3 linked regions of the Homo sapiens genome follow. The protein of the gene in region 2 purifies or fractionates together with the protein of the main gene of each other region. This does not show direct contact. Each region holds a gene or a part of one and is shown on either strand. Other genes may lie near its edges.

Region 1 (3,752 bases), on a different chromosome or scaffold from region 2:
TCCCAGCTACTTGGGAGGCTGAAGCAGGGGAATTGCTTGAACCCGGGAGGCGGAGGTTGTGGTGAGCTGAGATCACGCCACTGCACTCCAGCCTGGGTAACAAGAGCGAAACTCCATCTGAAAAAATAAATAAATAAGCAGTTCATAATTTCCTTCTCACTTGAAATGCTGTTATCTTTCATGTGTAAAATACTTGAATTTGGTATAAAGTAATAAAGTGAAATGGATAAGAATAGGGCCTTGTGAGTCATTTGAACTGGATTTTATTTATTATTATTTTTTGGTAGAGGTGGGAGTCTTGCTATGTTGCCCATCTCAAACTCCTGGGCTCAAGTAATCCTCCCGCCTTGGCCTCCCAAAGTGCTAACATTACAGGGGTGAGCCATTGTGCTGGCTGAATATCTGCTGTGTCACTTGGAAGCTGCATGTCCCTAACCAAATTATGTAACTTCTCTAAACTTCAGTTTTCTCAGTTTCTCATGACAGTAAAATAGAAGTAGTAACATCTACCTAAAGGATTGTTATTAATATATAGCTAGTGTTATTAATATACTAGTGCTTTGATTACATTAAGATGTTGATAAGTGGCTATTATTTCTTTTTATTTTCTGTTTTTTCTTTTTCTTTTTTTTTTTTTTTGAGACAGAGTTTTGCTCTTGTAGCCCAGGCTGGAGTGCCAGTGGCATGATCTTGGCTCACTGCAAACTCTACCTCCTGGGTTCAAGCAATTTTCCTGCCTCAGCCTCCTGAGTAGCTGGGATTACAGGCACCTGCCACCACACCCAGCTAATTTTTGTATCTTTAATAGACATGGGGTTTCACTGTGTTGTCCAGGCTGGTCTCGAACTCCTGACCTCAGGTGATCCACTCACCTTGGCCTCCCAAAGTGCTGGGATTACAGGCGTGAGCCACTGCCCCGACCTATTTCTGAACGTTCTAGTCTATTTCATTTATCTAGGAATGAAAGAAGAAAAAGAGAAGAGCGTGGGGTAGCATAAGAGAACTACAGAAGTAAAAGCATAGAGACAGGAAGGGACAAGGTAACTTTTAGGGCAATTTTTATCAAAATGTGGGACAATACCTATTGTGGGTTATAGTATCACTTTAATAACTACAACCAGTATTTTGGCTTAAATGCATAAACATATTGCAATTGAATAGAAAATATGACATATTGGAAGTATTGTTTCAGAAAATTTAAGTTTCAGTATATATATACATATTCTATATATACCCATTTAATTTTGTATAGGTGTACCGTGATAAGATGTAAAATGTATTTATTGTGGTTGTTGGGCAAAAAAGGCTGGAAAAACAGTATTTTAGCACCCAGGAAGTAGTTCATTTGAGCAGAAACATTGTTTAGGCAGGAAAGTTCTATAAATCAAGGTGGACCACAGCATTTGGAAAGCCTCCTCTACTTTTCACATTGTTTGGAGCTTTATTTTCTTCCCTTTGTTAAAAATATACTTTAAAATTATTTGTTTTGTAAAAAATTTAAAATACAAATGAAGGTAAAGTAGCTCTTGACCACCTTCTTCCTCCAATCCGAATCCTGGCCCTCAGAGTTACTACTTTGCCCTTTCCCCTTTCAGACTTACTCCTTCACATTTAAATGCCTATGTGTGCAAATATATAGTTTGCAGCAACTTGGCTTTTTTTTCTCTCAATTTATCTTGATCTTTTCACGCAGATTTATCTTGCTCAAGAGCTGCACAGTATTTCAAAATGCGAATGTACCATAGTATATCTTGTCTTTCCTCTATCGATGAATGACTAGGTTTCCAATTTTTTGTTATTTCCCCCCGTGTCCCCCAATAAAGCTGGATCCCGAGCTTTTTTTGTACACATGTGCAAGTGCCCACGGGGTAGAATCCTAAAAATAGAAGATGTGTGAGTACTTTCTTTTTCATTTTGTAGGCTCTGGGGAACTACTGCAGGGAGGTTGGGATACAAAACATCCCCAGGCCAACAACCGGCCAGCTAGGACAGGTTCTTGCTTTAGCCCCCGACAAGTTTTCTTCCTTTCATAATGGACGCTGACTTTGTTTTTTTTACCTCGTAGATGCAACAGTTCCCAGCACCAAACCCAGATATACAACCATTCAGCTACCAAGAGCTACGCCTGATAAATTAGAGGGGAAAAAAAAAATCTCCAGTCCCTTCACGTCGTGACGCTTGCTTCCGGGAAGCGGGCCGGAAGCCACTCCTCGAGTCTGCGTCAAACCCGACTTCAGGGGCCGTCGTAAAAGTGTCGTCCCTGTCTCTCCGACCGGCCACAGGTTTCCGCTTGCCTCTGGCCGGGGGTCGGCAACTGCAGGCGTCAGTTTCCCTCAAGATGGCGGACGAGGAGGCTGGAGGTACTGAGAGGATGGAAATCAGCGCGGAGTTACCCCAGACCCCTCAGCGTCTGGCATCTGTAAGTCCCTATAGGCAAGTCTCTTTTGTCCTCCCCCCGGTCCCTCCCTACTGCGCTTAGGAGGATGTGGGGCTTCACCCCTTATGGCGGCTCTGGGGAGGGGGAGTTATCTGGATTGATCTGGAAGGAAGCCACCGAATAAAAAGTTAGTCGCAACCCACATTTCTGCCAGCCAAGTCTACGGAATATAATGACTTTGTTATGTATTATTCTTGATGATCTCAAGTGTGCATGTCTCTATTCTGAAGTAGAAAGAACCAGTGATGTTATTAGACGGTTTGATGTGGGGGCCGAGGCGGGGTTGGAGCAAGAGCCATTTTCGTATAGAAGCAGTACTAACCCTTTACTCTTGATGATGGGAACGCAGCACCTGGTATTTTATTGCATAGCCTGCTGGCCGGGACCTGATATTGGTAGGTAGTGCTGCTACTGTCAAGTCATGTCTAGATGTGAGGTGTAGTAATTGTCCTTGCGTATAGCATCTTGGGAACCCCAGGCCTAACCCTCAGTGGAGAAACCCATCATCTGTCGCTACTTTTTAAAGGTGAAGAAAGGACTCCCAAACATTTCAAGCCAGAGCAATACCATTAATTGATGTCGGAATCTATACTTTGCTCTTGCATTTTGAAAGAATGGGAAGGCACAGATAGTGAACAAATTTGAGTCACTAGCTACAGGGAGAAAGCTGCCGAGGAAGATAAGAGTAGGGGGCAATGTTAGGGAATGTTCTGGATGCCCAGGGCATCTAGTGTGGAGATATGTAGAAAATATTCAAATATCTGTCACCGCATGATGTTTTATTAGTTTGTCTTTCTAAATAGCAGCATTTAGAGATTTGGGATATACACATTTTTTCTGAAGTTTCTTTGGCTTGTAGTTTAATAAAAACATTATTTTATTTTATTTATTTTTTGAGGCAGAGTTTTGCTCTTGTTGCCCAGGCTGAAGTGCAGTGGTGTAATCTCGGCTCACTGCAACCTTCCGAGTTCAGGAATTGAACTGCAAATTCCCGAGTTCAGGAATTCTCCTGCCTCAGCCTCTTGAGTAGCTGGGATTACAGGTGCCTGCCACCATGCTTGCCTAATTTTTTTTATTTTTATTTTTATTAGAGACGGGGTTTCACCATGTTGGCCAGGCTGATCTCGAACTCCTGACCTCAGGTGATCCACCTGCCTCGGCATCCCAAAGTGCTGGGATTACAGATTAAAAGCATTCTTGAAGGTTTTTTGTTTTTTTTTTTAACCCTGCATACAATTGAACATTGTTTTATGCGAGAACAGAGGGAACTACAGAGGGAGCTACGGCATGAGTCAACTCCAGGGACTGAAGAGAC
Region 2 (3,752 bases):
AAGTGCCATCTTCCTTAAAACTAGTACTACATCACCCCAAGCCCCCATCACAACTGGGACTCGGGCCGAGTTGTGTCTTACTTAATCCCCCAGTGAAATCACAGCTTAACATTGCTGCATGGCAGCCTGATGCACCAGCCCTTCCAGTCAAAACACCAATGATCCAGAACATTTCTCTGCCAACAGACAAATTTGGCTTCTGCCAGGGACTGATTTTGGGATGACCTCAGGATGGGTCTGGTGAGGTGGCCTGTGAAAGCAGAATGGGGATGTCACCTTAGGGAAGACACTGCCAAGTGACAAAGAGCCTACAAGGGAAAACAAAGAACTTTGTTGGGGCAATGCTAGCCCAAGCCTCCTGTGGACTCACACCCTTCCAGGTATGATAAGCTCTCCAGTCATTTTGGTGTTTCATGTGCAAGAGCCCATGGTGACCTGATACCTAAAGATTCATCCAAATATGTTAAGATGAGAAAAAATAGAAGCTGTCAACATCAAAGGAGGACTGAGTTGGCAAATAACCCCTTATATCCTTAATCCTTTAAATATCTCTAATGGAAAAGCTGTTGGAGTTCTTGGTTTTTACCCTGGAGAGTAAGACTGGAAAGGGGAAAGAGAACCGAGGTTCATTTTTTTTCTCTAAGAGGATCAGAGTCCTGCTATTTGAGGCCTGAGAAAGAGTTATGAGCAGAGAAAGAAGATGAAGAGGCTGCCCCATAATTCCTATGGATACAGTGCATACTCATCCTCTTTCACCACAGATGCTGGCAAAATCCTAAAGGAAGAAAGCATGTCTTTTAGCCCAGTTTACAGAGAACAAGGGCACTGTCGTGCATGGTGCATGGGAGGACATTGAGGATCTGTGTCTTGACAAGGATCTCAAACAAGCCTTTGATTATGATTACACAGCCTCCTGGGCCACTGTTGCCCCTAGTCTGGATTACTGCAATAGCCTCCTATCTGGTCTCTGCTTCTACCAAGCCCCCCACCTGCAGTCTAATTCTCAACACAGTAGCTGGAGGAATCCTTTTAAAAGTAAGTCAGATCACATCATTCTTCTGCTCAATATCCTTCAATAATATGCAAGTTCACTCTTTTCCATGGCCTACAGGCCCTCTATATTCTTCCTCCCATTATCTCTCTGAGCTGTATGTACTTCTTCTCTGCCTGCTCTCAGCTCCAGCTGATTCAAACACACTAGGCATGTTCCCACCACCGGGCTTCCACACTTGCTCTTCCTCCAGCCAGAGATGCCCCTTCTCAATGCTGCCAGTTCCTATCTCGCCATAGTTTCTATTTTTCTACAGTATTTATTACCTACAAACATATTACATATAATTACTTCTTTCTTATGCTTGTCTATCTGCTTCTGCTAGAAGGTTAAGCCCTAATTTTGTTCATAGACGTATCTCAAGTGCCTGGAACAGTGCCTGGGAGTTAGTAGACACTTGATTTATTTATTGAATAAATCAATGGCTTTTATTGGCTCCTTGTTAGCTCCACCTTTTGAGCTTAATTCAAAAGGTACCAGTTGCCTTTGAGAAACAGAGTGGCCAAAAGTTTTAGAGCACAGAGTTTAGGGTCAGACAGACCTTGCTGCAAATTCCAGCTCTACCACTCACTAGGCTGGATGATCTTGAGCAATTACATAATCTCTCTGTGCCTCATTTTCCTCGGTTATAAAATGGGATTAATAGTGGTACCTACTCATAGGGCAGCCACGGAAGTCAATGAATTAATGCATACAGAGCACTTGAAGCAGTGCCTGGTATATGACAACACTCAACAAATATTAGTTATTATAAGTCTGATCAGTTACTTCCCTGCTTCAAACTCTCTAGTGGTTCTTAGGATCAAGGCTAAAATCATAAAGAGCATGATATCTCCAACCTCACCTCTCCAGCCCCCGAACCTTCCCACTTCATCTATGCTCCCCTCCAGGCCGCTGTGCTCCAGTCACTCCAATCTTTTCCAGGCCCTCAATCTCCCCAAGCTTGTCCCTGCCCTAGAATCTCTGCACATGTTGTTTCCTCTAGCTGGAATGCTCTAATCTAAGGATTGGCAAACTTTTTCTAAAGGGCCTGGTAGTAAATATTTTTGACTTTGTGAGCCATATGGTCTCTGTCACAACTACTCAATTCTGCCATTGTGGCATAAAAACAGCAATAAACAATGCATGAACAAATAGGGGTTGCTGTGCCCCAATAAAATTTTATTTAGGAAAGGAGGTGTTGGGCCAGATTTGACCTATGGGCAGTAGTTTGCCATCCCCTGCTCTAGTCCCCCCTCTTCACCCAGCCAACCCCAATCATCCTATAACGCTTGGCCTAAATGTCACATCCTCTGAGAAGCCTCCCTTATTGTCCATGACTAGGCTCTAAGTTCTCCAGTTACATATTCTTACATCACCCTCTGGAGCCCTCATTACAATCTTAAATTATCTCATTATTTAATTAATTTGTTCAATTGTTCATTATTCAATTACTTCCTCTTCCAGGCTATAAGCTGCATAACTAGGACTATGTCTATTTTATCTCTGTGGTACCCTCAGAGGTACTAAAGAAGGTACCACTCCACATGAAAAAGAGGTTGGCTGGCCAGGCATGGTGGCTCAAGCCTGTAATCCCAGCACTTTGGGAGGACAAGGTGGGTGGATCACTTGAGGTTAGGAGTTCAAGACCAGCCTGGCCAACATAGTGAAACCCTATCTCTATCAAAAATACAAAAAATTAGCTGGGCGTGGTGGTGCACACCTGTAATCCCTGTTGCTCGGAAGGCTGAGGCAGGAGAATAGCTTGAACCCAGGAGGTGGAGGTTGCAGTGAGCCGAGATCGCGCCACTGCACTCCAGGCTGGGTGACCGAGTGAGACTCTGACTCAGACAAAAAAAGAAAAAGAAGTTGGCTCTGGCCTCTAAGACTGTATCTTACTACAAAAGATAACAAGACTAGATTAAAAATAGTCTGTGCTCTGGGAGAGAAGTAAAGATGTTGATGCTATTTTCTTAGGGCTTAGGGAAGGGGGATTTATTTTTGGAGCTGTTAAAAGTCTGACTTATGGACGAAGAAATACAGTACCTGATGGACATAATATTCAAGATCAAAGAGCGCAGCAATCTTCTCTTCCAAACTGGAGCTGGAACTATTGAACTTGTTGATCAGCCGTACCATGATCTGCATGTCAGTCTCAATGACAACATTCAGCTCATCAAAGTCTTTCTTCAGTTCCTCAATGGGGCGGAAGAGCCGCTTTACCTCAGCCTGCCTTGCCTAAGGAGAGCAGCAAAGAGGTGATTAAATTGGTTGGAGACATCTGCCCAAGATGTCTGTGGTCTACCATGGATGCCCATCCTCAAAAAACTGCTGCTCCAAGACTCACAGTCTTCTCTCATCTATGCTATCAAAAATACTAATACTTTCTAAGATGCCCAGAGAAGACAGCCCTCAAAGTCTGCCTATATAGGCCTCAGCTCTAAAAACACACTCAAGATGTTCCAAGATTCGCTTATTCAAGTCCGATTTCCAATATTCAGGAAGAATAGAAAGGCTTTTTGTCACAACCACTGAGTTAAGGGGAAGTAATGCAAGTTCATCTTCAACCTCAAACCACATATGAAACAGCTGAGACCTAAGGTAGAATAACCCACACCCTACTTCTCCACTTCTCACAATCATAGACTATCTTGGCCTTGCCCTACCCAATCCAACAACATTTTAGGGAAACTTGGACATAGAAAACTATGGGTAAGAGCTG
Region 3 (3,752 bases), on a different chromosome or scaffold from region 2:
TTTATCATTTCATATTTCTGTAAAATACAGACAGATGGAAAGCAGTTTAAGAGAAAACCCAAGGAAACAACACCTTTCTTTTTAAAAAGCAACCAAATGCAGAAGTCCTGCAAACAGAGACCTATGTAGCATGAAAGTGTTTAAACCAGTGGTTTTTAATCTTTTTTCTGCCCCAGCCTCCCAAAGGAATCTCATCCACCCCATCAGCAAGGGCAGTTCACTATTGGAGTAATTTCAATGGAGAATCACTACCAGATTTAGAACCTCAGATTCAGGCATGATCTTATTTCTGTTCTAACATGGAACAAATCATACTGACTACTTTTATTCCACTTGAATGGTTTTCAACTGGGAAGATGGTAAATGAAGGTAGGCTTTACCCAGCAAGATTTTAAAACACATGTATTTCTGGCCTTTTTTTTTGCTAGAAACTACAGTCAGTGACTCAAGGAGAGAGAATCATTTAGGAAATTTTCCAGTAGACACCTCTCTTCCCTTCATCTATGGACTTTATTACTTCACAGGGATGGAGCAGGGGGGAATGGAGGTGGCAATAAGAGTAAAGGCTTCATGGACATTACTACCACTATTTTAAAAGTGCCTTTGCATTTTTCTTGTTTATCTTCTGTGCACACTCTCCTAACCATCTCCTACCACATTTTCTGAAGTACTCTAAAACTGGAAACTTCAAATCAACTGGAATGTAAGACCAAACACAATCGTCTGAGGTTGATTTTCACCCCACTTTGTTCATGTGAAGTCCCCAATGTTGATTATTTCCTTCCTTAAAATGCTCCTTTCCTGTATTTTAATCTGTGCTATTCTTGTTCTCCTTCTCTCTCTCTAAATGCCCTTCTATTTTTACCCCTATGAGGAGAGGCTCCAATGTCTGATTTTAATAGATTCCTCTGGTGATGAAATCTGACAGTATCTAGGCAGATGATGCTTCAATTTATTTCTCTAATGGCTGCAACTTCAAAATGCTCACTAGACATTTTTATACTTTCCTCAAACTGAACATGTGACAAAAACATATTACCTTCCCTGTCTAAACCAATTCAACATCCTTATCTCACTAAATGGCACCACCATTATTCTAGTCCCTAAACCCTGGAATCTCCTTTGACTCCTGTTCCCCTCCGCCTTGCTAACGCTTTATCTGCCTCTCTCTTTTCTCTTGCTCCCCACTCCCACCCCAGCCTCTCACTAAATGTTGCCATTTAGGGAGATGGTCTAACAGTGGTTTTCAATCAAGACTGCAAACCAGAATCATACAGCAGACTTTCAGAAAAGACAGAAGTACACATCCTACTGATACTAGAACACTGGGGGCCCAAGCAAGTGCATTTTTTCAGAGACCACAAGTGATTCTGATGCACAACCAGGTTAAGAATCACTGGGTTGGAATATAACGGTTCAAAGCATGTCCTCAGCCAGAGAGAGGCACAAAGACTGGCACCGCCACTCACTACTAAGTTGACCCTGGGCAACTCACTTGAGCTCCTTGATCCTCAGTCTCTCTTTCCATCAAATAGGAATAACAGCATGTGAGGTAGCTAAGAAGATCAAATAAGGTAAAGCATTTAAAGCATTCAGCAAAGTGCTTGGATAAAATAAGCACTCAATAAATGCTATCTATTCTTACCATTGTTGATTCTTAATAGTTCCTCTCTAGTGGAAAGTACATTACACTATCTGCAAAATGGTACAATGCCTCTGGTTTTCTTGTCTCTAAGTCCTCCTTTTCTGTCCTATATGCTATCTCTAAATTAATATTCTAACACAACAAATTTCCCCTCCTAGATGCAAAGCCTTCTGATTCCAGATTACCAACTGAACCAAGTCCATACTCCTTAGCTCAACATTTAAGATCTCCATCATTTGACCATGACTTTTCCAACCTTACTTGCAGCTATTCTGCTACATAAATCCTGTGTTCCCTAGCTGGATTTATTATCAATCCTTTCATGTATTTACACTAGACTTTTAAAATCCAGCTCTTATTTTTTGAGATACTAGCTATCATTCAGGACTCAGTTAAGATGTCCCTTCTTCCACAAAGTCTTTCCTCCAGACCTGAATGGAAGTGCTCACCCCCTTCTCTGATGATCTAGATTTCTGTGTGCTACACTTCTAATTCTTATCTGTCTCCTACTGTTCTCTCTGCATATTATTTCCCATTAGATTATCTCTTTCTGAATAACAACCAAGCTTATTCTTTGTTTTCCTTCAACAATTATTTATTGTTTAAATTCTCAATTTTTTTATTTTTTTGAGACAGGGTCTTGCTCTGTCACTCATACTGGAGTGCAGTGGCACGATCATAGCTCACTGCAGCCTCAAACTCCTGGGCTCAAGTGATCCTCCTGCTTCAAGCCCCCAAGTAGCTGGGACTACAGACATGTACCACCATGCCCAACTAAGTGTGTGCGTTGTTTTTCTACAATTAGGGTCTCACTACGTTGCCCAGGTTGGTCTTGAACTCTCGGCTTCAAGTGATCCTGCTGCCTCAGTCTCCTGAGTAGCTTGGGATTACAGGAATAAGCCAACACGCCTAGCTTCCCCCAACACTTATAATGGGGATACGTGTCTTCTAAACAGAATATGCTCAATAAGAATTTGCTATATAAGCTATCCACCATATGCAATTTTTACAAGACCTTTCCCTAAAACTTTGCATGTACTGAGTAGATATTTGCATAACGAAGAAACGCCTCCATTGTGTAGACACTTTCAGTTAATTATTAATGAGAGCTTGGCATTAAAATTAGAGTTCTATGGCTACAAATGCAGGTTTTCATATATTTATGAACTTCCTCCAAATTACCTGTAAAATTATACTTCTATAACATCTACAATTCTGTTATCACCAACTTAAATGTACACTCAAATTCAGTTTATTCACAGCTATCTTCCCTGGCAAAAATGCACCTTAGTACTTCAGGGCCGTAAAGACTTTGGTGAGGAACTCTCTGTACCAATTTGCATTTGAGAGATCAGAAAAATCACACTGTATCTTACCTGTACAATTCCATTTACATGAAAACACATCACAAGCTCTGGCACATTGCATATCAAGTTGTCCAACCAATAGTCAATTCCAGTTAGCACATTAATTGGTTTGTTGTTATCCCTAAAAATATACATTTCTAGTGTTATTTGGTTTAATTAAGATGTTCCTTAATTAATCATCTGAAAGTTATTTCACCATTTAAGTATCTTAAGCTGTCCTCTCTAGATAGAAAATGCCATCTATGCTTTCTTTTCTGATAAGATATGCACATGCAGCTCAGTGGTTGTGCTATATTTAACATCTTTCCAAAAGCTTGCTTGTATTTCTAACTGACATTGGTAAGTTTTCAGTAAGAATAGAAGACAATATAATAGGAAAGGACGGTGAGCCTACTGCCTGCTCCTCACACACAACTTGAAGAAAGACTGAACACCATACAAGACCATGCTTAAGTTGGAATTCACATTGGCTAATATCAACAAATACACGTGGAGCATTAAGAAAAATGCTCACAAGTAGTTAGTAGGAATCTAACTAATTAAATAAACTCTCTTGAATATTCTCACAAGTTGTAGATTCAGACCTAAGACTAGGCCAGTCCAACAAACCTCTGGCTCTATTCAATGAGGTCTAGAATGAAGACTCAGCTATAGGCCTGCCTTTCAGCATCTGCTGACAGTAGCTCCTTCCTTAATGTGGCCATTTCAACTGGCAGGGGAAGGAGGGAGGGGAAAAAACC

What was found.
Region 1: the proteins of SIL1 (region 2) and UBR1 purify together in Homo sapiens (affinity purification with mass spectrometry; 3 studies listed by BioGRID and IntAct, with this or other methods). This does not show direct contact.
Region 3: the proteins of SIL1 (region 2) and EDRF1 purify together in Homo sapiens (affinity purification with mass spectrometry; 2 studies listed by BioGRID and IntAct, with this or other methods). This does not show direct contact.

The regions. Positions count from the first base shown.
Region 1 is NC_000015.10:43,104,609-43,108,360, reverse strand, and holds the start of UBR1 (E3 ubiquitin-protein ligase UBR1), read left to right. Parts: upstream 1-2,322; 5' UTR 2,323-2,338; coding exon 2,339-2,419; intron 2,420-3,752. UniProt on the Homo sapiens protein: E3 ubiquitin-protein ligase which is a component of the N-end rule pathway. Recognizes and binds proteins bearing specific N-terminal residues that are destabilizing according to the N-end rule, leading to their ubiquitination and subsequent degradation.
Region 2 is NC_000005.10:139,023,725-139,027,476, forward strand, and holds part of SIL1 (nucleotide exchange factor SIL1 precursor), read right to left. Parts: intron 3,269-3,752; coding exon 3,077-3,268; intron 1-3,076.
Region 3 is NC_000010.11:125,729,669-125,733,420, reverse strand, and holds part of EDRF1 (erythroid differentiation-related factor 1), read right to left. Parts: intron 3,150-3,752; exon of another isoform or gene 3,134-3,149; coding exon 3,022-3,133; intron 1,557-3,021; coding exon of another isoform or gene 1,496-1,556; intron 18-1,495; coding exon 1-17. UniProt on the Homo sapiens protein: Transcription factor involved in erythroid differentiation. Involved in transcriptional activation of the globin gene.